Homo sapiens: one gene and its partners. The protein of the gene in region 1 purifies or fractionates together with the protein of each later gene. This does not show direct contact. Each region holds a gene or a part of one and is shown in the gene's direction. Other genes may lie near its edges.

Region 1 (3,500 bases):
GTCATGTATTTCTGTTTCTGTTTCCCTGTCATTCTCTGGCTTTATTTAACTATTTGGCTCTCATTTCCCTCATTACCCTGATTTCTGTATGTTATTATATTATATGTATTACTATACATTGTTTCAGAACAAGTTTGGAATTAATACCTTAAGAAAAATATATCAACAGTTTGATTCAGACTGGCCTGTTGTAGTCCAGGGTGATCTTGAATTAGGAGGTGAACTGTGCTATTAAAAATAAATTATTGGCCGGGTGCGGTGGCTCACACCTGTAACCCAAGCACTTTGGGAGGCTGAGGTGGGTGGATCACTTGAGGTCAGGAGTTCAAGACCAGCCTGGCCAACATGTGAAACGCTATCTCTACCAAAAATACAAAAATTAGCCAGGCGTGGTGGTGTACGCCTGTAATCCCAGCTACTTGGGAGTCTGAGGTGGAAGGATTGCTTGAACCTGGGAGGCAGAGGTTGCAGTGAGCCTAGATCATGCCATTGCACTCCCTCCTGGGTGACAGAGTGAGCCTCTGTCAAAAAAAAAAAAAAAAAAGCTAATATTTTTGAGGGCTTATTGTATATTAGCCATTGTCATGCATCCTTTGTGTGTATTTCCTTAAACCTTACAATGATCCTATGAGGCAGGGCCTATTATCTTTTCATTTTGCAGTTGAGGAATCTAAGGATCAGAGGGGTGAAGTGATTCAGCCAGCAGTTGCCAGCTGCAAGTGGCAGAGCCAGGATTCAAATGTAGTCCGCCTGACTCCAAAGCACATACTTTTACTCCCTGTTTGATGTTCTAGGGGTCCCCTGAGCTCTTGGGGGCAATGGAGGGATGATTTCAGGCAGCTGACTGATGCTTTCTCTCCCTGTTCTTCTTCCTCTTCTCTTCCCATTTCTTCTAACTTCTTCTCTCTGCTTCCTGCATTCTCCAGAGCCCATGAGGGCCCCCAAAGGCCTGGCTTTTGCTGAGATCCAGGCCCGTCAGCTGACCCTGCAGTGGGAACCACTGGGCTACAACGTGACGCGTTGCCACACCTATACTGTGTCGCTGTGCTATCACTACACCCTGGGCAGCAGCCACAACCAGACCATCCGAGAGTGTGTGAAGACAGAGCAAGGTGTCAGCCGCTACACCATCAAGAACCTGCTGCCCTATCGGAACGTTCACGTGAGGCTTGTCCTCACTAACCCTGAGGGGCGCAAAGAGGGCAAGGAGGTCACTTTCCAGACGGATGAGGATGGTAAGAGTCTCAGTCCCAATTCCCGGGGCCCTGTGTACCTCCCACAGATACGCCATGTCTGAGACTGAAATTTACTGAGGGTATTTTTTTCTTTTTTTTGCTTAGGATTAAACCAACTGTATAACACCAAAGTAGTGATAGCTCCTATTTTTTCTCTGGAAGACTTTGGGTTAGATTGGTCTAATTTCTTTCCTTAAGTGTTTGAAAGAATTCAGCAGTGAAGCCATTTGGGCATAGAGTTTTCTTTGTGGCAAGGTTTTTAGTAAATTTTAGTTTTTAAAATAGATATTGGGATATTCAGATTTTTTTATTCTTGTATCAGTTTAGATGGACTGTATTTTTTAAGGAATTTGTTCATTACACCTAAATTGTCAAATTTCTTGAGATAATGTTGTTTATAATTTTTTTTATTTATTTAGAGACAGAGTCTTGCTCTGTTGCCCAGGCTGGAGTACAGTGGCACCATCTCAGTTTGCTGCAGCCTCCTCCTCCCAGGCTCAAGCGATCCTCCCACCTCAGCCTCCTGAGCTGGGACTACAGGCATGCACCACCACGCCAAGCTAGTTTATTTATTTTTGAGGCAGGGACTCACACTTTTGTCCAGGTGGGAGTGCAGTGTCATGATTATGGCTCACTGCAGCCTCGACCTCCCAGGCTCAAATGATCACTCTACCTCAGCCTCCCAAGTAGCTGGGACTATAGACGTGCACTGCCATGCCTGGCTAATTTTTTTGTATTTTTTGTAGAGACGGGGTTTTGCCATGTTGCCCAGGCTGGTCTCGAACTCCTGGGCTCAAGTGATCCACCCACCTTGGCCTCCAAAAGTGCTGGGATTACAGGCATGAGCCACTTCATTTGCCAATATTCTTTTATTATATTTATTTAATGTCCATAGGCTCTATAGTGATATCATCTTTTTCATTTCTGATATTGGTAATTTCTGTTTTCTTTTTTCTTGTTTACCCTTGTGAAGACTGTATAAATTAATCTTTCCAAAGAACCAACTGTTGGCTTACTTGATTTTCTTTATTTTCTATTTTTTATTTCCTTTGTTATACTTTCTTTGGAGTTGATTTGCTGTTCTGTTTGCCTTTTGAGATAGAAGTTTCTTAGATCATTAATACTGAGCCCTTCTTCATTTCTAATATACGTGTTTAAAGCTACACATTTTCCTCTAAGTCCTGCTTTAGCTGTGTCCCACAAGTTTTGATATTTCCTATCTTCATTATCATTCAGTTCAATTTGTTGTCTATACAATTGAACTGTTATTTCTGTTATAATTTCTGCTTTGACCTAAGAGTTACTTAGAATTATGTTGCTTAATTTCTAAGCAATTGGGACTTTTCTTTTTTGTTTGTTTTTGAGACACAGTTTCACTCTGTCACCCAGGCTGGAGTGCAGTGGCACAATCTCGGCTCACTGCAAACTCCGCCTTCTGGGTTCAAGTGATTCTCATGCCTCAGCCTCCTGAGTAGCTGGGATTTCAGGTGCCCGCCACCACGCCTGGCTAATTTTTGTATTTTTAGTAGAGACAGGGTTTCATCATGTTGGCCAGGCTGGTCTCGAACTCCTGACCTCAGGTGATCTGCCCACCTTGGCCCTGCAAAGTGCGGAGATTATAGGCATGAGCCACTGCACCTGGCCAGCAATTGGGACTTTTCTAATTGTCTTTTTATTATTGATTTCTAGGTTAATTCCACTGTAGTCAGAGTATATACTCTAAATTTTATTTTGTGAAATTTCATCTTTACTTTATGGCCCAACATATTGTTAAATTTTGGTAAATGTTCCAGTGTATTTGAAAAGAACATGTATTCTGTTGCTGTTGAATGCAGTGTTCTACATATGTCAAACTAATATTTAGCCCTTAGCACATTCAAGCACCATTCTGAATGGTTTTGATATATTACTGCATTTAATACCCATGACAACCCTATGTGGTAGGTTACTATTTCTATTCCCATTTTATTTCTATTCCCATTTTACAGAAGAAGTCACAGAAAGCCTGGCTTTCTAACCTGACCATCTGGCTTCACAGTTGTCATTCTTTTTTTTTTTTTTTTTTTTTTTTTTTTTTTTTGAGATGGAGTCTTGTTCTGTTGCCCAGGCTGGAGAGCAGTGGTGCAATCTCAACTCACTGCAACCTCTGCCTTCCTGGTTCCAGCGATTCTCCCACCTCAGCCTGTCGAGTAACTGGGATTATAGGCACCTACCACTACGCCGGCTAATTTTTTGTATTTTTGGTAGAGATGGGGGTTTCACCAT
Region 2 (3,500 bases), on another chromosome or scaffold:
TTATCTGCCACGTGCCAGAACATTGAATTTTTCTTTTTCTGTAAATGTGGCCTTCCAGAACCACCTGCAGCTCCTTTTATGACTAATCACATACATATTTTTTAATGCCGTTGAACATTTCTGAAGTCATGGAATCACTGGGTCACATAGTAGTTATATATTTCACTTTAGAAGAAACTACCAAACTTAGGACAGCAGCATAGGAGAGGCGCAGTTCCTCCATATCCTGAACCCTTGGTATTGACATTTGTCAAAACCCAGCCATTCTGATGGGTGTGTAGCTGTATTTTATTGTGATTGGAATTTGTATTTCCTGGATTACTAATGATGACGGGTGTTTCTCAGGAGCATACTGGTCACTCAGATGGCTCTTTTTCAAGAGTCTGTTCAAATCTTTTACTTCATTTTTTAAGGTGGGTTGTCTCTTGACAATATGGATATCCTTTTCCCGTCCAAGGCTGTCCCGATAAACCTGGAGCTACATCCTATGTTGTCTCTCACACGAGGCACCGTTCCAGCACTTCTCTCTGTTGCATTATCAGGTTTACCTCTCACATGGGATTATCAGCACACATGCTGCTGACTTTTCCAGGTTGACAAGAGGCTCTCCCACCGCCCGCCGCTGCCCTTTGCGTCCCAGCGGCTTGTTATGTGTAGCCCCGCTCCTCCTGCACTCGTACACCCCTCGAGAGACACCAGTGTGGTGCTGAGGGGAAAGTTGTGAAAAGGGCAAAGACAAAACAAGGTCTGGCTGGGTGTCCTGCCCAGCCTGCCCGCTGGGTCCTCACCCCCTGTCTCTCCTGGGCTTTGCGGCTGTTGAGACAGAAGGCAGCCTGCGGTAAGCGGATAAGCCGTGTAGACACACCCCACCCAGAACCCTGCACGTTATTCCCCTCCTGGCAGGGCAGAAGGCTTTTGTCACATAGAGAAGTTAGTTTCAGTGAGGCATTGAAACAGCCTCCTGGGTCCCTCATTAAAGGTGATGTGTGGTCAGATGGATTCTGTTTTTTTTTTTTTTTAAGAAAAAGGAAAAACAGCTGTAAAATACCTTGTGAAAGCAACAGGAGAAATCTAAAAATAAGTTCGGTGTTAGACAAAGTTTTTGATAGAAAAAAGGATTGGGGTGGGGGGAAAGAGGGAGGAGTGGACTAGAGACAGCCAAGAAGAAACTTTCGGGAGTGGCAGATGTGCTCTGTGTCTTGATTGGTGCGGCCTGCCCGACTGCTTGTGCTGCCCTCTCTAAACGGATAGTTAACCTGCAGTTCTTCTCATAGTAAGAAGGGAAGCCTCAGTCAAAATGAGAGTTGACTTAGGACCAGAAATATATCATTGTTCTATTTGGGGGATATTGCAGGCGTGGAAAGTCTCAAAAGCATCTTTAAGGAGATGAGATGCACTGTTAAAGAGATTCGTATCTGAGTTTAATTAAATGCAGCTTCTTGGTACAATTCATGGATTATAATACTTCTTACAGTGTTTTGTAATCTTTAATTTTTCGTGTTCATTTCTCCACTGTCCATTTTTCTTGTCTGTGAACTTAGTGCCAGCATACCGTTTGGCACATAACGAGAATTCTTTTAAAAACTGTCTGAATGACTGAATGTTAGTTGGATGATTTCCCTGTCTATCTGTAAGATGTCCCTATTTTCAGAGATAATCTTGTACTGGAATAGTTTCTTAACCATTGTCACTGAGAGTAACTTGGGGAAACTGGTGACATTTTGCCATCCTGTAAGTGTGTGAATACTTTTTTCATTTTTACAGGTTGCTGCAAAACTGTAATGATGACAGTTTGAATGTTGCACTTCCAATGAGAATGCTTGAAGTATTTTCGTCTGAGAATACTTACTTGCCTGTTTTACAAGATGCTAGCTATGTGGTGTCAGTGATTGAACAAATTTTGCACTACATGATTCACAATGGTAAGTAGTAGGCAGGATCAGAACTGTGGCTCAGCATCCTGATGGGGAGTGAGCAGAGGCCAGCCTGCTGCTGTGAGCCTGTGCCCTCAGTCTCAATGTCAGAGCGGTACTGGTGTCCCAGACGCCTTGTGCTCCATCCACAGGTGCCCACCAGAGTCCCAGATTCCAAAATCTGTCCTTGGCTCCACCCACTCTGAAAATTCAGAAACATGCTACTCTCTTTGCCTTTTTCTTTTGCTTGGAAGTGAACCAAAATTGACATATGCTTTCATCAGTTGTCCCGTCATCCAAGATTGGTGTCTGCAGTGCAGCTGCCGGTCCTTCACCTGACCAGGAAGGGCTCTTACCACCTCCTGGTCATTCTGAGTGAATGGGAAAGGTAATGCCACCAATGTATGAGTTGAACATCACTCCAAGAGCCTTATGAAAAAGTAAATTTTGTTAAATGATTTTTCTTCCAAGAGTGAGGTCCTTTCACATTAGTTCAGTAGAAGAGAATAGGATATTTAGTTTGAATTTTCTAACTCAGTGCTAAAGTTTTAATACATTGATAATGCTCCTAAAATGACTGCATCGTAGAAGCTATACTGAACTGCATCTGAAACCCTTGAGGACACATTAGTGACACTTTCTGGAGAAAAAGGATGAAATAAACATGATTTTTAAAAATTTTATGAAGTGAGCAGTATAAATCCTAACACAAAAGAACCTTTGGTCTCGACATCCTCATAGGTAGAAACCCAAGCACTTCAGGACTCCTGGGCTCGAGAAGTATTTGTCAGCATTAAAAATGTGCGTGAGACTAGTTGTGAAGGGAGGTCTGGAGAGCCGTGGCTGCAGACAGAATTATAAGCAGCTGTGCTTTCCTTCACCTGAAGTCATAGTCTGGGTTACATCTAACGGACTTGAAGTCTGGACCACTTGGTCCTCTTGGTCCTCTGTCAAAACTACAGAAATTAAACGCATACTCATTTCAGCCTTGCTGCTTGGCGTGTTACTATTTTTTAGACTCCTTAGTTTGTTGAAAACTTAGGGAAACAGTATTCCGAGTTAATTAAAAGTAAACTGAAAGTTGTGGAATTTGATCTTTTTAAAAACTAATAATTAAAAGTGGTTCATTGTGTTAGTTGACATATATACTGTTTTAAGACTAAGCGTTTGAGAATTTGTATTTGTTTTCTAAAATTGTAAGGAAGATATTTAAGAAATATGCATTATTTGAAATGTGTCCCAATATACGAAATGCTTAAAAATCTTACACAGAAACTGCCGCTTCTAGCATCTTCTGTGGTACAGCAGTTGTTTACTTTCTAACAGTCGATAAAATTTTAGCCTTTTAAATTATAGTATTACCATTATTTGTATTGTTATTGCACATTCTGTGCCATGAAGCTTTTTAACATTTGCAACAGAACCTTTGTCATGTTGTCAGTCTATTCAGTAAGTACATTGTTAGTTATGTTAGTCACTTTTTTAAAAAAGTCTCTGTGTATTTTTTAAAATTCTTGATGTATTTTTATCTTTTTAGTTTCATAGCAAAAGAGCTTTCAAGCTTTCATATGAGTTTCACTAGTTATC
Region 3 (2,576 bases), on another chromosome or scaffold:
AACTGCTTCCTTCTATGATGTTTACTAGATGGAGAAAAATACTCCATACCTATATTGCAATTTTATTTTTATCTAGAAAAAGAAAATATTAGGCTTCAGACCCAACTGTGCAAATTTCATTTGCTTTCCATCTCTTACTACTACCTCTGTGTCATAATTTAACACGTAACATACAACTCCTGTCTCTTAAGGCAGCTACCATATGGTGTTTATGTCAGACTGGATATATTTATCTAATTTTGTGAAATTATTTTTTAGTTCCCAACACAATTCTTGAAAGTAATACCACTGTTGTTACTCTTTCTCCTTACAATTTTTATGTTGTTGAGATGTATCAGTTATGTATTATAATCATGAAATTGTATTGGCCTCAAACCCAAATTTTCTTTGTAGTCTAGGATAGATTTTTCATGAAAGCTATATAGTTATAACTGTGATTGTACAGATTGTTTATTTGTTTTACAGCTAACATTAAGCATGATTCCAGGTTTTTAATTATGTTCCAGCAACACTAGTGTTTCTTTATAACTTAAAATCATAACCACTTTGATAATTTACCTTTGGATCTGACCAGTGATTCATTTTTTTCTTGAATATACTTTGTGTTTGCTTTCTCATCCCCGTTAAGTCTGAAACATTATTGACACCCCACATCACTTACTCTGTTTAAAGACTTTACGAGTAGTGAGTCACATGTTTAGGATGATCACTTTGGGAAAAAAAAAATTATAGAGTAAAGGGGAAATGTTCTTGAGAGCTTTATTAAAACCATTAATATATAAAATGAAAAAATAATAAACAGAAGACACGAAGTGTCTCTCAATAGTTTAGAAAGAAAGATTTGGAACTTTAAGTAAAAATGCTAGGTCAAGTAAAAATCCTGATGTAGATTAGATTATCTTAATCTTATGAGCATTTTTTTTTAATTTGGTGAAGCTGTTTTGAAACTGCCTGTCCATATCAATGCCAGACTATCTCTCTACCTCTCAAAGAAAATAATTTGCATTAAAATTCCTTTTTTTGTTATGTAATGAAAGTATAAAACAAGAATTTGTACGTTACTCAGTGTGTACTGCAGTCAGATATAGTTAAAATAATTTTTCTGATGCGTAATTTTAACCACCATTTCTGGAGTACCTAGTATGTGCAGGCCAAGGCTTTGCCTATATTATTCCCTTTAATCCTCAAAGTAGCCTTGCAAAGAAGTTATTTTCATTTTACAGAAGAGTCAAGGATTAGGGGGTTGAAGTGAGCTGCCTAGAGTCACATACCTAAAGTCCAGGTGGATCACTATGTCTTGCTTTTTCAAAAGCAGTTCTTTCTACTACAGTACAATAGTTTCATGTTTTACAGTCCATTAAAATCCAAGACTTATAAAATAAACTAAAAATACTCTTGAGGCAATTACTATTTCTATGATGGGCACTGGGACAAATATACTTGAACATAACAAAGAACTAAAAATACTGTGAAAAAAAGATTTGTCTTAACGATGACCTTGAAAGTTGCATTGGGTTTTTATTATTGGTCCAGGTTTAAAACATTTTATCTATTTAAAACATATGTTGTGTGTTTTAAGAAGTTATGTTATAAATAACAGCATTGTGGTTAAGAGCCCAGAGTCTGGGGCCAGGCTTCTTAGATGCAAATCCCAACTCTGTTATTTTACTAAATGTGTGACCTTGGGCAAGTTAATTAACCTGTTTTGGTGTCCTCCTCTGTGAAATGGAGTTAATCGTGGTATTTAACAGAATTCAAAATGTAGTGTGTTCTAAAGCGCTGTGCCTGGAGCATCATCACCACTAGGTGGTTAGGGAAGTAAAACACATTTGGCACACATCATTCAAGAATGGCCAGAAAATCCATGTCTTCCCACAATAGGGACCAATTTTTTGCCTTTCACCAGACAACCACTGAATGTTAAGAATCTACTGTGTGCTAATAACTGTGTCCTTGCTGTATGACAGAAGCTATTTGGAGCGCTCTCAAGTGCTTATTACAGCTAGTCAAGGAAACCGCATATATAAAATAATACTGGATACAAGACTATACAATTAAATACTGGTGTATCACTAACAACTGTTTAGACCCTGTTTTTGCGTTAAGCATTGGGTTAGTCTCTGTCCTCATGGAGTTTTCAGTTTTATAGGGAATACAGACCTTTTAACAAGTATGTAAAGTACAGTAAAAGACAAGTACAGATTAAAATGAAATCATAAAATAGGAACCTTAGCCTAGTCTTCTGTGGTTCAGGTTAATAGTGCTGTTAGTAGTCAGAAGGAAGTTTTTTAAAGAAATGAAAAAGCTCAGTGGTTAAGATAGAAATTAAAGTTAGTCTTGATGGCTACCTAGATTTTGGATGAGTTCAAAGGATATACGGAGGGATTTCAGGCAAGATAATGTGAGCAAGGCATATCTGTGAAATAGAAAACAGTGCATTTTGGTGTATTGTGTGAAACAAGGTTGGTTGTGAAGGATTGGGTCCCTTCATAAAATTCCTTGAAAGCCAAGGAGAGTAGTTTAGATTTGAGATGGCAGGGTCTGGAGTGATTTAAGAATAAATTATAAAACCAAGG
Region 4 (3,500 bases), about 14 Mb from region 1:
TTTTTGAGACAGAGTCTCACTCTGTCACTCAGACTGGAATGCAGTGGCACGATCTCAGCTCACTGCAACCTCTGCCTCCCAGGTTCAAGCGATTCTCCTGTCTCAGCCTCCCGAGAAGCTGAGATTACAGGCACCCACCACCATGCCCAGCTAATTTTTGTATGTTTAGTAGAGACAGTGTTTCACCATGTTGGTAAGGCTGGTCTCGAACTCCTGACCTCAGGTGATCCACCCACCTCAGCCTCCCAAAGTGCTGGGATTACAGGCGTGTGCCACCATGCCCGGCCACTTCCCTTTTTTTATATTGGCTGACTGACCCTTTCCCACTGGCTAGGAAAGGATCACCCATGGCTGCCATTCTGGGCAGCAGAGCCTGGGACTGTCTCTTCATCAGGGAACCTCTGGTGCCCAGCACAGGGCCTGACACACGTGGAGTCCAGTGTATAGATGTAAAAGGAATGAGTGAATTAACCTCAAGAGGGATACCCACTCCCACCTACTGATGAGACCATGAGCCCCTGAAGGACAGAACCACATCTCATTCGTGTTTGTGATTCCTGGCACCCAACACAGCACCTGACAAATGACAGCCTTTGATGGGTGTTGGTAGGTACATAAAATTTCAGAACACCAGTCCTAGATGAAATCTTGAAAGATCAATTTTATCTCCCTACTCCACCCCTCTGGGCTACATCTGAATTTTTCTGGCCAGAAAAAAATCAGTAAAGTTGAGGAAATAATTCCACAATGTCAGAAAATTCTTCCATGTTTACACCTTAAGTCCTTTATTATCCCTTTTATTGTTTCCTCATGCAGAACTTATTGAGCATAGCCTATTATACTGAGATACAAAATCAAACTTTTAGAATAAGCTGTCTGTGAATTAGAACACTGAGCAATCTCTACCTTCCCCTCCACCACCTCCACCCGCCAAGAAAAGCTCTGTTTGCCTGAAATTAGTAAGCGTTTATTGGTGTGAAGAGTTTTTGGTTTGGGATTTTTATTTTATCTTTTTTTAGCTGGAGAGAAGAAATTTTAACTTGAGCTAATAGTTTGTTAATTTGGTTTTAGGAGGGAAATGATGCCCCTGCTGTCCCTGATCTTCTCTGCCCTCTTCATCCTCTTCGGCACTGTCATCGTTCAGGCTTTCAGGTAAATGTCCTGTGGCTTCTCGGTGCACCACCATGGTTGGTGTTGACACTTTTTTTGTAAAACTCCTTTTTTCTTACTTTAGCGACTCTAATGATGAGCGAGAGTCAAGCCCTCCAGAAAAAGAGGAAGCCCAAGAGAAGACTGGGAAAACTGAGCCAAGCTTCACCAAAGAAAACAGCAGGTTTCTCTAACAAAACACCAGACTCACCTCCCCGGCACCTGCCCCCCAGATCCTGTCATCTGATAACGCAGCATTGGAACATAGAGTGTAGAGAAGAACTCTCATGCACCTCCTCCCATGTAAACTGTGGCTACAGGGAAAAGTCACTGTGATTTGTGTTTACTAAGACCCTGTAGGTGTTTAGATGCCTTAGATTTCATAATGAAGGCAGAAGGAAAGAAGCCTATCAGGCAAGTGTTAGGTGAGCCAGAAGCAGGACGTGGTTTATCCCTGTAAATGTCAATGAACGTAACCAGTCTTGTGCGCACACACACCCAGCAGCAAGAGGCCAGGGTCTCCGAGACAAAGAACATAGACTGAATGATAGTTGTCTTCTTCATTCTGTCCTAGAGCAACTTCTGCACCTGAAAAGCAGCATCAAGCAGGGCACAGTGGCTCACGCCTGTAATCCCAAGACTTTTAGGAGGCCTAGGTGGGAGGATTGCTTGAGCCCAGGGTTTGAGACTAGCTTAGGCAACATGGCAAGACCCTGTCTCTACAAAAAACTTATAAAATTAGCTGGATGTGGTGGCAGGCACCTGTAGTCCCAGCTACTTGGGAGGCTGAGGTAGGAGGATCACTTGAGCCCAGGAGGTCGAGGCTGCAGTGAGCCATGATCATGTCGCTGCACTCAAGCCTGGAAAACAGAGCAAGAACCTATCTCAAAAAGAAAAAGAAAAGCAGCACAGAAAGGCTGTTTGTAGGTCAGGGATTACCAAGTCAGGCCATCCCCATCCTACCAATGTGTTAGACTCAAGAATAGTGAATAACATACCTAGTCTGGTTAGAACATAGCATTTTCTTTCAGCTGTTTCTTTTCAAAGTAACGGCTTTCCCCCTATCCTGACAGCATCTTAACTCCTCAATATTTCTCCACAGCAAGATTCCTAAAAAAGGCTTTGTGGAGGTAACTGAACTCACAGATGTAACATACACCAGTAACTTGGTACGTCTGAGGCCAGGCCACATGAATGTGGTCCTCATCCTGTCGAATTCTACCAAGACCAGCCTACTACAGAAATTTGCTTTGGAGGTCTACACATTTACTGGGTAAGCATGTGTGTGTGTGCATGTATGTATGTGTGTGAGAGAGAGAGAGGCAGGCACACTGAAATTGCACGCTTTTCTCTTTGGTCTTGTGGGGCTTCATCCATACAGCAAGATGCTGGCTGTGACCTTTCCAATCCAGACATCTGAGCCATTGCGACAGGGACCTCTTTTCCCACTTCACTTCGTGTTTTGTTGGTTCTGAACAGAAAAGCTTGAACTCAGTGTTATTCCCTGAGCCCTTTCAGTTACTGTTCTCTAGCCCTTGTGTATTTTCCAGAAGAGCAATGTTAAGTTCCACCGAGCAAGCGATGGGGGAATGGGTGATTGAAGTGTCGCAGCTGCTGGAGAGGCACTGGCTCCCACAGAAGGCCTTCTTTTTCTCTGTGTTCAGGCCCCATCCAACACAAAGCGTTTTCCTATTATTTTAAGTCTCACTGGGGTATTTATTTTCTCAGCAATTAAATGTGTCAGGAAATGCCCTGAGTCCTCAATTCTCTTCTTCCTACAGGAGCAGCTGCCTACACTTCTCCTTCCTGAGTCTAGATAAACACAGAGAATGGCTAGAATACTTACTAGAATTTGCTCAAGATGCAGCTCCAATCCCAAACCAATATGATAAGCATTTCATGGAGCGTGACTACACTGGTTATGTACTGGCTCTGAATGGCCACAAGAAATACTTCTGCCTCTTCAAGCCCCAAAAGACAGTCGAAGAGGAGGAAGCCATAGGGTCGTGCAGTGATGTTGACTCTTCCCTCTACCTGGGTGAATCTCGAGGGAAACCTTCCTGTGGCCTTGGATCCAGGCCCATCAAAGGAAAGTTGAGCAAGCTCTCTTTATGGATGGAACGCCTGCTGGAGGGCTCCTTACAGAGGTTTTATATCCCATCATGGCCTGAACTAGACTGAGAGGATTTTCCAAAGAGATTTGAACTCTTCAGACTTTTTAACATGCCCCTGTGAACAGGTATTTTCAGGACTCAAACTACCACAATGAACAGAGTATAGATTTTAGATTGCTCTTCTAGAACCATGGCTAGAAGAATCTTTCCTTTGTCCTGTTCTAACCTAGGAATGAA
Region 5 (2,804 bases), on another chromosome or scaffold:
CATGAAAGTTGTGTGGAATGAGCTTCTAAAGCTTTCTTCCAGAGTTCAGACCTGGTGGGGGGCAGATGCGCTGGCTGCTCTGTGACTTCCCCACCCCACTCCCCGTGTAGAGCCACAGACCAGGGGAGCCCTGACTAGGAATGGGGCCCCAGGGAAAGGTTACAGAGTGGGAATGGTGGGGGGGTTGGCTGAATCGCGGCCAGAGATCTGTGGGGGCCAAGTCTGCCTAGGGCCCCAGCAGACAGTCGGGGGCTCCGAGACGTGCAGGGGGCACTTGGATCTACTTGAAGGGGCCTTTTTTGCCTGTGGGGCAGGAGGTGCACTGATTTGAAAAGGTTCTTCCAGTTGGCCTTGGGACCAGAACTGCTTCCGCCCTGGGATGTGCCATCGCGGAATTCTTTGTGGAGGACCCGGTGTCTTCCTGCCTCTCCGAATCACTGCACTCAGGGCTTATGGGGAGGGAGCAGAGACGGCACTCGCGCCACTTTCCTTACTAGGAGGGGGGTTTCTAAGTCTGGTCCTTCAACCAAGGGACTGACAACTTAGGGGAGCTTTCCCTGCAACTCAGGAGCAGGAAGGGAGTGGTGGGAACTATGTATCCAAACACGTTTCAGCGTCAGGGTCACTTTGTTTTTCCCATTCATCTGTCCAAAGGCAAAACAACGAGTGGATGAGAAACCCAGCCTGGGAGCCGTGAAGCTGCAGGAGGCCCCCTCGGCTGCCTCCCAGATGAAGCGAACCGGAGCGATCAAGCCTCGGGCTGTCAAAGTGGAGGAGAGTAAGGCCTGACAGTGCCTGGCTGCCACCTCGCCTCTCCCTACTGAGGACGGTGCCGCCATGCGGCCTCGACACAGCCGACACTCGGGAGCCTCACCAGATCCACCGTCCAAATGCGTGGCCCAGACTGAGAGACCTCCCTCCTCTCCACTCCCGAAAGCTCCGTTGTCAACCAGCTTGCACCCGTGGATATATGGCATTGACCCGCTTGCTTTGATACGAAACAAAAAAGCAGACGACTCCTTCATCCCATCTGCTCCTACCGTGACTGTGGAGTGACGCCTCCTGTGCAGTGCAGATTTGCCCTCCCTGCCTCCTCCCTGTCCTGCCGCGCAGCCAGGGCGCCTTCTCAGCAGTGCTTCCGGCCCAGCCGCCCATCCCTAGGCACAGTGATTTGGCAGCAGGGTCATTTTACTTTGAGGCTTTTTGTTTTAAAATGTAGCCAAGGTTTTTACAAAGGGGAAAGGAAAAGAAAACAAAAACGCAAGCTCCATGTGTATAGCTGAACTTTTATATGTTTCTTGCCAGCCCCTCCGCTCCCTTCCATCTCTAGCCTCTGTCCTGTTTAGTTTGATACGTCACTGCAGTACCTTAAGAGGTGACTCTTAAGAATGCATCCCCTCCTGATTCCTCAGCTGGTTCACCCTTGAGGTTATTTGCAAAAAGAAAAGGAGGTTCTTGAGGGCACCGATTGCGAGCATTCTGGTGCCTGGCTCCCCGCCTGGGAAGCGATGGGGTGCTCAGAGCAGCAGGCAGGTTGGGGGAGGGGGGGGGTCATAGTTGGGTTCCAGCTCCTGGCTTGATGAGCCCAGGGCGCTTACAGGCAGCCCATGAAGTTGATGACAGTTTTAGCATGAGAATCACACAGGGTCCCTGTCCTGGGCTCCTCTAAAGCCAGTGGATGTGCTGGGCACCAGAGACAAATCATGGAGATGGCTGCTGGTGGCTCCCAGGTTGGCCCAGATGGGGTGAGCTGACATACCACAGGCCCATCCCAGGCCCCGTGGGCTCTGCTTCTGGGGCTCCATACCCTGCCCTGCAGGGGTGCTGTGTTTTTCACACATTTCTTTCCCTGAAGCCTTCTGTAACCTGTCATTTTCCTTCCTTCCTCTTCCGGAGCCTGCTGCTTTCTCTGGACCTGTCTCCACCTCCCACACAGCTCATCGTGAACACCACTTGGTGATGGAGGGAGTGGACCCGTGTGTGGTCCCCAAGTGAGGCCACTGGGAGTTTGTCCTTTTCCTCCTTTGCTTCACTCCCAGCAGCAGACCCAGGTTGTCAGGACAGGAGGGCCTGAGCTAAGCAGTAGGCATCAGTCTCGTTTGTCTTCAGACGGCGGGGGCAGGTCCAGGGTGAGGCTGGGTGGAGGGCTGACCAAGGTCCAAAGGGCCTGCGCAGCCTCCGGGAGGGCAGCTTCTCCAGCCAGAGGCTTGTGTGAGCCATCGTGTGCTGGGCTTGTTTTTAAGTAAGAAACAAGGAAATCACTCCAGATTCTGTCATTCCAAGGAAAGGGAAGGGGACAGTTCAGGTTTCTCAGCTGTTCTTAGGGGTCACTGAGCGTCTACCTCCTCCTCCAGAGGAGGCTGGCTCAGAACACCTAGAGGAGGGGGCCGGGGATGCACCCCCCACCAGAGGCTGCCTTCAGCGTCTCACGGGTGCAGGACAGCGCTCAGGCTTGGGCTCTAAGCTCTGTGTCTAGTGTAGAACATGGGGAAGGAGCATCTTAGGAACTGCTGAAGTAACTTCTTACTGCTCTCACAATTCTAAGGAAGCGGGAGAACGGCCTCCTACCAACAGCGCCCACCCCAGAGCTGCCTGGGAAAGGGCAGTTTTACTGAAAGGTGCTTTACTGTTCACCTGCATCTTTCAGCAGCTCCCCTCCTGCCCTCACCTGGTCTTTTCCCTCTTTATCCCAAGCCTTTATGCTTGAGTCCCTTCCCCAGGGGCTGCCCACCCGACAGTTCCAGGCATTCCCTACCTGAGCTTCTTGTCTGCTTTTCCTTCTCCCACTGCAAGCGGCTGCTTGT
Region 6 (3,500 bases), on another chromosome or scaffold:
TAATGCTCCCTTAAGTGTTTTTCCAATCATCTAGGAAGAATGGGGCTGGAGGAAAGAATCACAGGCCACTGATAAGTATCTATATGGCTATCCTCCAAAGTATATGACCACTCCTTTCTGGGTTATCTTAGGAGAGCAGGGATGAAGGAAAATGTGTATTTGACTACTGCCTACTAATATAATCCATGCTTGAGTATTTTCTGCCTTGTTCTTATTCAGCCCAGTTCTCTCTACATTGCTTATTTTGTTATAATTAACAAAATGATAAGATCATATTTATTAAAAACTTGCCTGGTTTCCATCTTTTCCACACCTACTGATTACCTCACCCCCTGCTTAGATCAACATGCACATCTTCACTCATACTCTTTGTTCATGATCTTCCTTGTCATAGGTTTCCATCATGCTTATAGAGGTTACCTGCACGGTTTATCTGTGAAGGAAATGATTGATTCCGGCAAGAACAGCACAGTTCAGTGGGCAATAGCAAAAAAACCTTAAATGAGCTATAACCTTGTAGCCTTAGAATCAGATCTGTGTCTAAAGAGTCTGACCTGTGAGCAACACTGGGCAAGTCAATATTTGTAAACTAGAACGCTCTATGCAAATATATGGTGTTATCATCAGTGGCAGGAGTGTCATTACTACCAAGTAACTCCTTTATGTTTAGAGAATACAAGTAGCATACAGTGTGGAACATAATTCCTGTTTAAAAAACGTTCTCCTGTTTAAACATCAGTTGGAATTGCTAAAACACCAGCTTCATAACTGAACTGCTCTAATACTTAATAAGCATATGGTATTAAAATTATATAGTAGCATACATTTTAGTCAGATCTTATGTTATTATAAATGTCAATTACTAGGTATAAAGAGAACTAACTAAAATAAAAAATAAGAGGGAAGTGGATGGTGATAAAGGAAATACTTTGTATTATTTGAAGGTTTGGCAGCAAAAGGTCTTCACAACTGTTTTTCAGTTATCTTTTGTACTTTATTTACCCTATAGAAAAACAGATACTTCTGTATTTTATAAAATACCAAGACTATAGTGAGGAATAAAGTTACTATATTCATAAAGAAATTTAAATCATTGTTTAAATTCAATTCTTTGGTTTTTTTTAGACTATATTTTCTGAATTTATCACAATCGAAATGTTATTTCACGGCAAAGCTTTAGAGGTCTACACTGCTGCCTACCAGAATATACAAAACATTGATGAAGATGAAGATTTAGAGGTAGGACTATGTCTATCTAAGCTCAGTTCTTCTGTTAATGTGGAAATATTTAAAAGAGAACATTAGTATGTGATTAATATCTTTTTTTTTTTTGAGACAGAGTCTCACTCTGTTGCCCAAGTTGGAGTGCAGTAGTGTGATCTCAGCTCACTGCAACTTCCGTCTCGTGGGTTTAAGCAATTCTTCTGCCTCAGCCTCCTAACTAGCTTGGATTACAGGTGCCCGCCACCATGCCCAGCTAATTTTTGTATTTTTAGTAGAGATGCAGTTTCACCATGTTAGCCAGGCTGGTCTTGAACTCCTGATCTCAAGTGATACGCCCACCTCGGCCTCCCAAAGTGCTGGGATTACAGGCATGAACCACCGTGCCCAGCCATGATTAGTATCTTAACTTTGAACACTATAGTGGTTATTATGTGTAATCCAAAATAGATGAACTTTTATGATTTTCCATTTATTTTCAATTTTTCAAATTAACCATGGCAAAAGTTCCAAGAGTTAATTTATTAATAGCTAGTAAAATATAATTTACATAAAGCCATTAAATAAAATACTGTGTATCATTTTGACTGGTGATATAAGCCCACTGAAGTGTGCTAAAAAATAGTTAACATTTATTGACTTCAGTAACATTTGAGTGTTTACATCATGCACAATGCCCAAAGCTTTACATGCATTTTCTCATTCAAACCTCAAAATCTTAGGTGGTAGGTGCTGCTATAACTCTCATTTTACAACTACAGAAGCAGGCTTAGAGGATTTAAATAACTTATTTGTGGCCACTTAGCTAGTAAATAGCAGAATCAGGATTCTGACTGACTGTGTAATGTAATCACTAAGCTATGAAATAAATGTAGGTTATGTAAGCTTGCTTTATGCTGATGGTTTTAGTTAAATGCAAATAATTCTGATTGGCCAACTAACATTAGAGCAAGTAAATATCAAAGACTGGTCCTCAATGAGCAATTCTGTAAATATCCAACCCTCTTACCTTCCAAACGGAAAAAATGAAGGTACGAAAGTATTTATGCTGAAGTAACTGTTCAAGACATACTTTCCCCATCTCATCTCTAATATAGAAGTGAAAAAAGCCATGTAATCCCACATATAACAAGAGTTCTGTATTAATAAAATATGGAAGTGTCTACCACTTAACAAATTTGAAGATTCCCCCGATTTTTTTTTTTTTTTTTTGTATCTTCCCCCGCCTTCCAAGACAGAGTCTTGCTCTGTCACCCAGTCTGGAGTGCAGTGGTGCGATCTCGGCTCACTGCAACCTCCGCCTCCTGGGTTCAAGTGATTCTCCTGCCTCAGCCTACCTAGTAGCTGGGATTACAGGTGCCTGCCACCATGCCCGGCTAATTTTTCTATTTTTAGTAGAGATGGGGTTTCACCATGTTGGCCAGGCTGCTCTCAAACTCCCGACCTCATAATCCGCCCGCCTTGGCCTCCCAAAGTGCTGGGATCACAGGCGTGAGCCACTGCGCCTGGCCTAGTTTTTTTTGTATCTTAACTATCAGTAAAGAGACCCTCTGAGCCTTCCTGTCCCATTACTCCACGGGCTCCAGGAAACTTAAAACCAGAATATAGGTTAAAGAGAATGAAGAAAGTACATATTACAGTATGTGTATATGTGTTTCTAATGTCAAAATCTAATTTGTTTTATATCAGTTATATATACATATTTATATTTCTCTATTTGTCAATCATGACTTCCCAAGTGTTAATTCCAAACACTACAGCTAAGGTTTCTTAACTTTCACTCCTTTTCATGTCCTGCTTTTAAAAATTGATTATGAAGGCCAGGCACAGTGGCCCACACCTGCAATCCCAGCACTTTGGGAGCCCAAGGCGGGTGGATCACCTGAGGTCAGGAGTTCGAGACCAGCCTGGCCAACATGGTGAAACCCCATCTCTACTAAAAATACAAAAATTAGCCAGGCTTGGTGGCACGCGCCTGTAATCCCAGCTACTCGGGAGGCTGAGGCAGAAGAATCGCTTGAATCCGGGCGTCAGAGTTTGCAGTGAGCCAAGATCATGCCACTGCACTCTAGCCTGGCAACAGAGTGAGACTCCATCCAAAAAAAAAAACTTGATTATCAAGCTTTCATCTGTCATTTATAAAATAATAAAATAGCAAACGTTTATATAATTACTTTGAGTCAGCTACTGATCTTTGCATTTTAACTATATCATTTTAATCCTCTCAATAACTTTGATAAAAGTACTTATTTCTGATTTCTGTGGATGAGAAAACTGAA
Region 7 (3,166 bases), on another chromosome or scaffold:
AGATTGTACCTGGGAAGCTGCCGTCCTTGTGACCCAAAGAAAAGAACAAGGCAGAACCAGGCAATGGCTCTCAAAGCCTCCACCTTTTTACACCACATTTCATTGACCAAAGCAAGTCATATGACCAAGACAGATGTCAGTGGGTCGGAAAGTTGCATCCCTCTGCAGGAGCAGGCTTGGTAGGGATGAGCTCCGTAGGAGAGGCAGAGGATATATAACCTAAAAAACACAATCTATTAAGTCCATTTAAATTTTACCTTCTGTATGAGAGTACTTGGCTTTGCTATTATGAGGGTCCACCAAAAAATGATGAGAAAAGTTCCAGGAAGATGATCAGATGCAATAAGGAAGCTCATGCTAGAATTGAGGAATTAGAAGCAGAACTGAAAATAAAAGTATAATGTAGAGGTCAGGCACAATGGCTCATGCCTGTGATCCCAGCACTCTGGGAGGTCAAGGCAGGCAGATCACTTGAGCCCAGAAGTTCAAGACCAGCTTGGGCAATATGTTAAAACCCTATCTCTCCAAAAATACAAAAAATTAGCTGGGCATGCTGGCACACACCTGTAGTCCCAGCTACTCAGAAGGCTGAGGTAGGGGGATCACTTGAGCCTGGAAAGCCAAGGATGCAGTGAGCTGTGATCATACCACTGCACTCCAGCCTGGGCAACAGAGTGAAACTCTGTCTAAAAAAAAAAAAAAAAAAAAGTATAACATAGAGATAAAGTATACTTCAGAACAAGGAATATTACCAGGAATAATGAGGGATAGTTCATAATGAAAAATGAGTCAGTTCATCAGGAGGCCTGAAACTCCTAAATATGTCAGAACCTAATAACAGAAATTTTTAAAACTTAAAGCAAAAACAACTGAAAGAGAAACAGACAAATTCATAATGATAGTTGGAGAGTTCAACCTGATCTATCAGTAAATGAAAGAACAAGTGACAGAATCAGTAAGCATATAGAAAACTTAGTACTGTGAACCAAATGGATCTAGTTGATACTGACAGAACACTCTATGCAACAGAAGCAGAATACACATGCTTTTTCATATAGACTGTATTCTAGAACATTAAATAAATGTAAATAACTTTTAAAGAACTGCAGTCATACAATGTACTTTGATGAAAAAAAAATTAAAACCAGAGATCAGTAACAAAGAGATATATAAAATATACTCAAATATTTATAAATACACATGACTGCAAATTAAATTATACTTCATGAAAATTTGTGGGGTACTACTAAAGTGATGCTTGAAGGGAAATTGTAGCAAAAATGGCTATATTAGAAGATGGTTCTCAAATCAGTGACCTAAGCTTCCACCCTCAGAAGTTAGAAGAGCAAATTAAACCCAAAACAAGCAGAAATAAGATAATGATGAATTTTAGAGCAGAAATCAATGAAATATTTAGCAAAAAGTAATAAGAAAAAAAATTGAAGCCACAAGCTTATTATTTAAAGAGGTCAATAAAATTGATAAACATTTTACCAGACTAATTAGGATATTAAGAGATTAAGCACAAACTATGGATGTTAGAAATAAAATAAAGAACTTTACTACAGATCTTACAGACATAGTAAGAATAATTTTTTAAAAAGTAGGACTGGGTGGTTTTCTTGAGAACAAGGCCCTGTGCTCCCATGAGAATGGACAGAGTTGGAATATAAGGCATCTGAAGGGCCCTAGAGAGGAGTAAGGGGAGGGGCTTCCATTGAGGAAAGCAAGTTACTTCTGTCCCCCTCTTCTAAATTTGCAAATTATTAGCGTGCTTTCCCACTTTCTGCTCCTTTTTAACCTCCCATCTTTCATACCATCCTTCACCCACCTTCAAGTATTAGCTTAACAGGGATGTGGGTGGTGTCAAGCAAAACCATTTCTTGGCCTTTCCTGTCTCACTGCTAAGCTCAATTCTAGCGTCCTGTTTGTTTTCTTTTGGTAAGTTTTCCCTCTCTCCACTCTAATCCTGCTCCAGTCATTCTTGGTTATGTATGTGTGTACTAACTTTTGATTTGGAAGTAATTTCAAAGTTATCAGAAAATTTGCAAGAATAATAGAAATTTTGAACCCAATAAACATTTTGCCACATTTGCTATTTGCTTTTCCATTTTCTCTGTCTCTCTCTCACTGACACACATTCACACACATTCTCTTACATTACTATAGTACAGTTAACAAATGTAGAACTTTAATATTGACATAGTCCATATTTCAGTTTAGCCAACTATCACACTATCTTTTACAGCAATTTTGTTTTTCTCAGGATCCTGCATTCCATTTAGTTGTCCTGACACTTTAGTCTCCTTTAATCTGAAACAGTCCCCTCTGCCTTTCTATTTTTTCCCTGATATTAATTTTTTTTAAGAATACAGTCCAGTTGTGTCGTAGGATCTCTCTCAATTTGTGTTTCCCTGATGGTTCCTTGTAATTAAATTCACATTACTGCATTTTGAACAGGAATATAGAGTCTTGTTTTAAAATGAATTTATATTGCTAATTATTTGTCTGTTTTGTGTTTGTTTTGTTTTGTTTTCATTTTAGAAAGCGGCCTCTTACACTGAGGAAGATGAAAATCACACAGCCAAAGATTGCCTTCTGGTTTATTCTCAGGAAGAAACTGAATCGCTGAATGCTTCTATTGGTTGTTGCAGTTTTATTGAAGGAGAGCTAGATGACCGCTTCTTAGATGATTTGGGACTTAAATTCAAGACACTAGCTGAAGTTTGCCTGGGTCAAAAAATAGATATAAATAAGGAAATTGAGCAGAGACAAAAACCTGCCACAGAAACAAGTATGAACACAGCTTCACATTCACTCTGTGAGCAAACTATGGTTAATTCAGAGAATACCTACTCCTCTGGCAGTAGCTTCCCAGTTCCAAAATCTTTGCAAGAAGCCAATGCAGAGAAAGTAACTCAGGAAATAGTCACTGAAAGATCTGTGTCTTCTAGGCAGGCGCAAAAGGTAGCTACACCTCTTCCTGACCCAATGGCTTCTAGAAATGTGATAGCAACAGAAACTTCCTATGTCACAGGGTCCACTATGCCACCAACCACTGTGATCCTGGGTCCTAGCCAGCCACAGAGCCTTATTGTGACAGAGAGGGTGTATGCTCCAGCTTCTACCTTGGTAGATCAGCCTTATGCTAATGAAGGTACAGTTG

Evidence for each region.
Region 2: the proteins of PTPRU (region 1) and UBE3C purify together in Homo sapiens (affinity purification with mass spectrometry, with the first as the bait; one large-scale study listed by BioGRID). This does not show direct contact.
Region 3: the proteins of PTPRU (region 1) and MON2 purify together in Homo sapiens (affinity purification with mass spectrometry, with the first as the bait; one large-scale study listed by BioGRID). This does not show direct contact.
Region 4: the proteins of PTPRU (region 1) and DNAJC16 purify together in Homo sapiens (affinity purification with mass spectrometry, with the first as the bait; one large-scale study listed by BioGRID). This does not show direct contact.
Region 5: the proteins of PTPRU (region 1) and PRRC2B purify together in Homo sapiens (affinity purification with mass spectrometry, with the first as the bait; one large-scale study listed by BioGRID). This does not show direct contact.
Region 6: the proteins of PTPRU (region 1) and CIBAR1 purify together in Homo sapiens (affinity purification with mass spectrometry, with the first as the bait; one large-scale study listed by BioGRID). This does not show direct contact.
Region 7: the proteins of PTPRU (region 1) and DSG2 purify together in Homo sapiens (affinity purification with mass spectrometry, with the first as the bait; one large-scale study listed by BioGRID). This does not show direct contact.

The regions. Positions count from the first base shown.
Region 1 is NC_000001.11:29,274,522-29,278,021, forward strand, and holds part of PTPRU (receptor-type tyrosine-protein phosphatase U isoform 1 precursor), read left to right. Parts: intron 1-926; coding exon 927-1,235; intron 1,236-3,500.
Region 2 is NC_000007.14:157,176,926-157,180,425, forward strand, and holds part of UBE3C (ubiquitin-protein ligase E3C), read left to right. Parts: intron 1-1,764; coding exon 1,765-1,922; intron 1,923-3,500. UniProt on the Homo sapiens protein: E3 ubiquitin-protein ligase that specifically catalyzes 'Lys-29'- and 'Lys-48'-linked polyubiquitin chains.
Region 3 is NC_000012.12:62,598,401-62,600,976, forward strand, and holds the end of MON2 (protein MON2 homolog), read left to right. Parts: 3' UTR 1-2,076; downstream 2,077-2,576. UniProt on the Homo sapiens protein: Plays a role in regulating membrane trafficking of cargo proteins. Together with ATP9A and DOP1B, regulates SNX3 retromer-mediated endosomal sorting of WLS away from lysosomal degradation.
Region 4 is NC_000001.11:15,564,848-15,568,347, forward strand, and holds part of DNAJC16 (dnaJ homolog subfamily C member 16 isoform 1 precursor), read left to right. Parts: intron 1-1,071; coding exon 1,072-1,152; intron 1,153-1,234; coding exon 1,235-1,333; exon of another isoform or gene 1,334-1,563; intron 1,564-2,251; coding exon 2,252-2,422; intron 2,423-2,930; coding exon 2,931-3,330; 3' UTR 3,331-3,500. UniProt on the Homo sapiens protein: Plays an important role in regulating the size of autophagosomes during the formation process.
Region 5 is NC_000009.12:131,495,086-131,497,889, forward strand, and holds part of PRRC2B (protein PRRC2B), read left to right. Parts: intron 1-654; coding exon 655-789; 3' UTR 790-2,804.
Region 6 is NC_000008.11:93,717,550-93,721,049, forward strand, and holds part of CIBAR1 (CBY1-interacting BAR domain-containing protein 1), read left to right. Parts: intron 1-1,125; coding exon 1,126-1,239; intron 1,240-3,500. UniProt on the Homo sapiens protein: Plays a critical role in regulating mitochondrial ultrastructure and function by maintaining the integrity of mitochondrial morphology, particularly the organization of cristae.
Region 7 is NC_000018.10:31,543,177-31,546,342, forward strand, and holds part of DSG2 (desmoglein-2 preproprotein), read left to right. Parts: exon of another isoform or gene 1-219; intron 220-2,544; coding exon 2,545-3,166.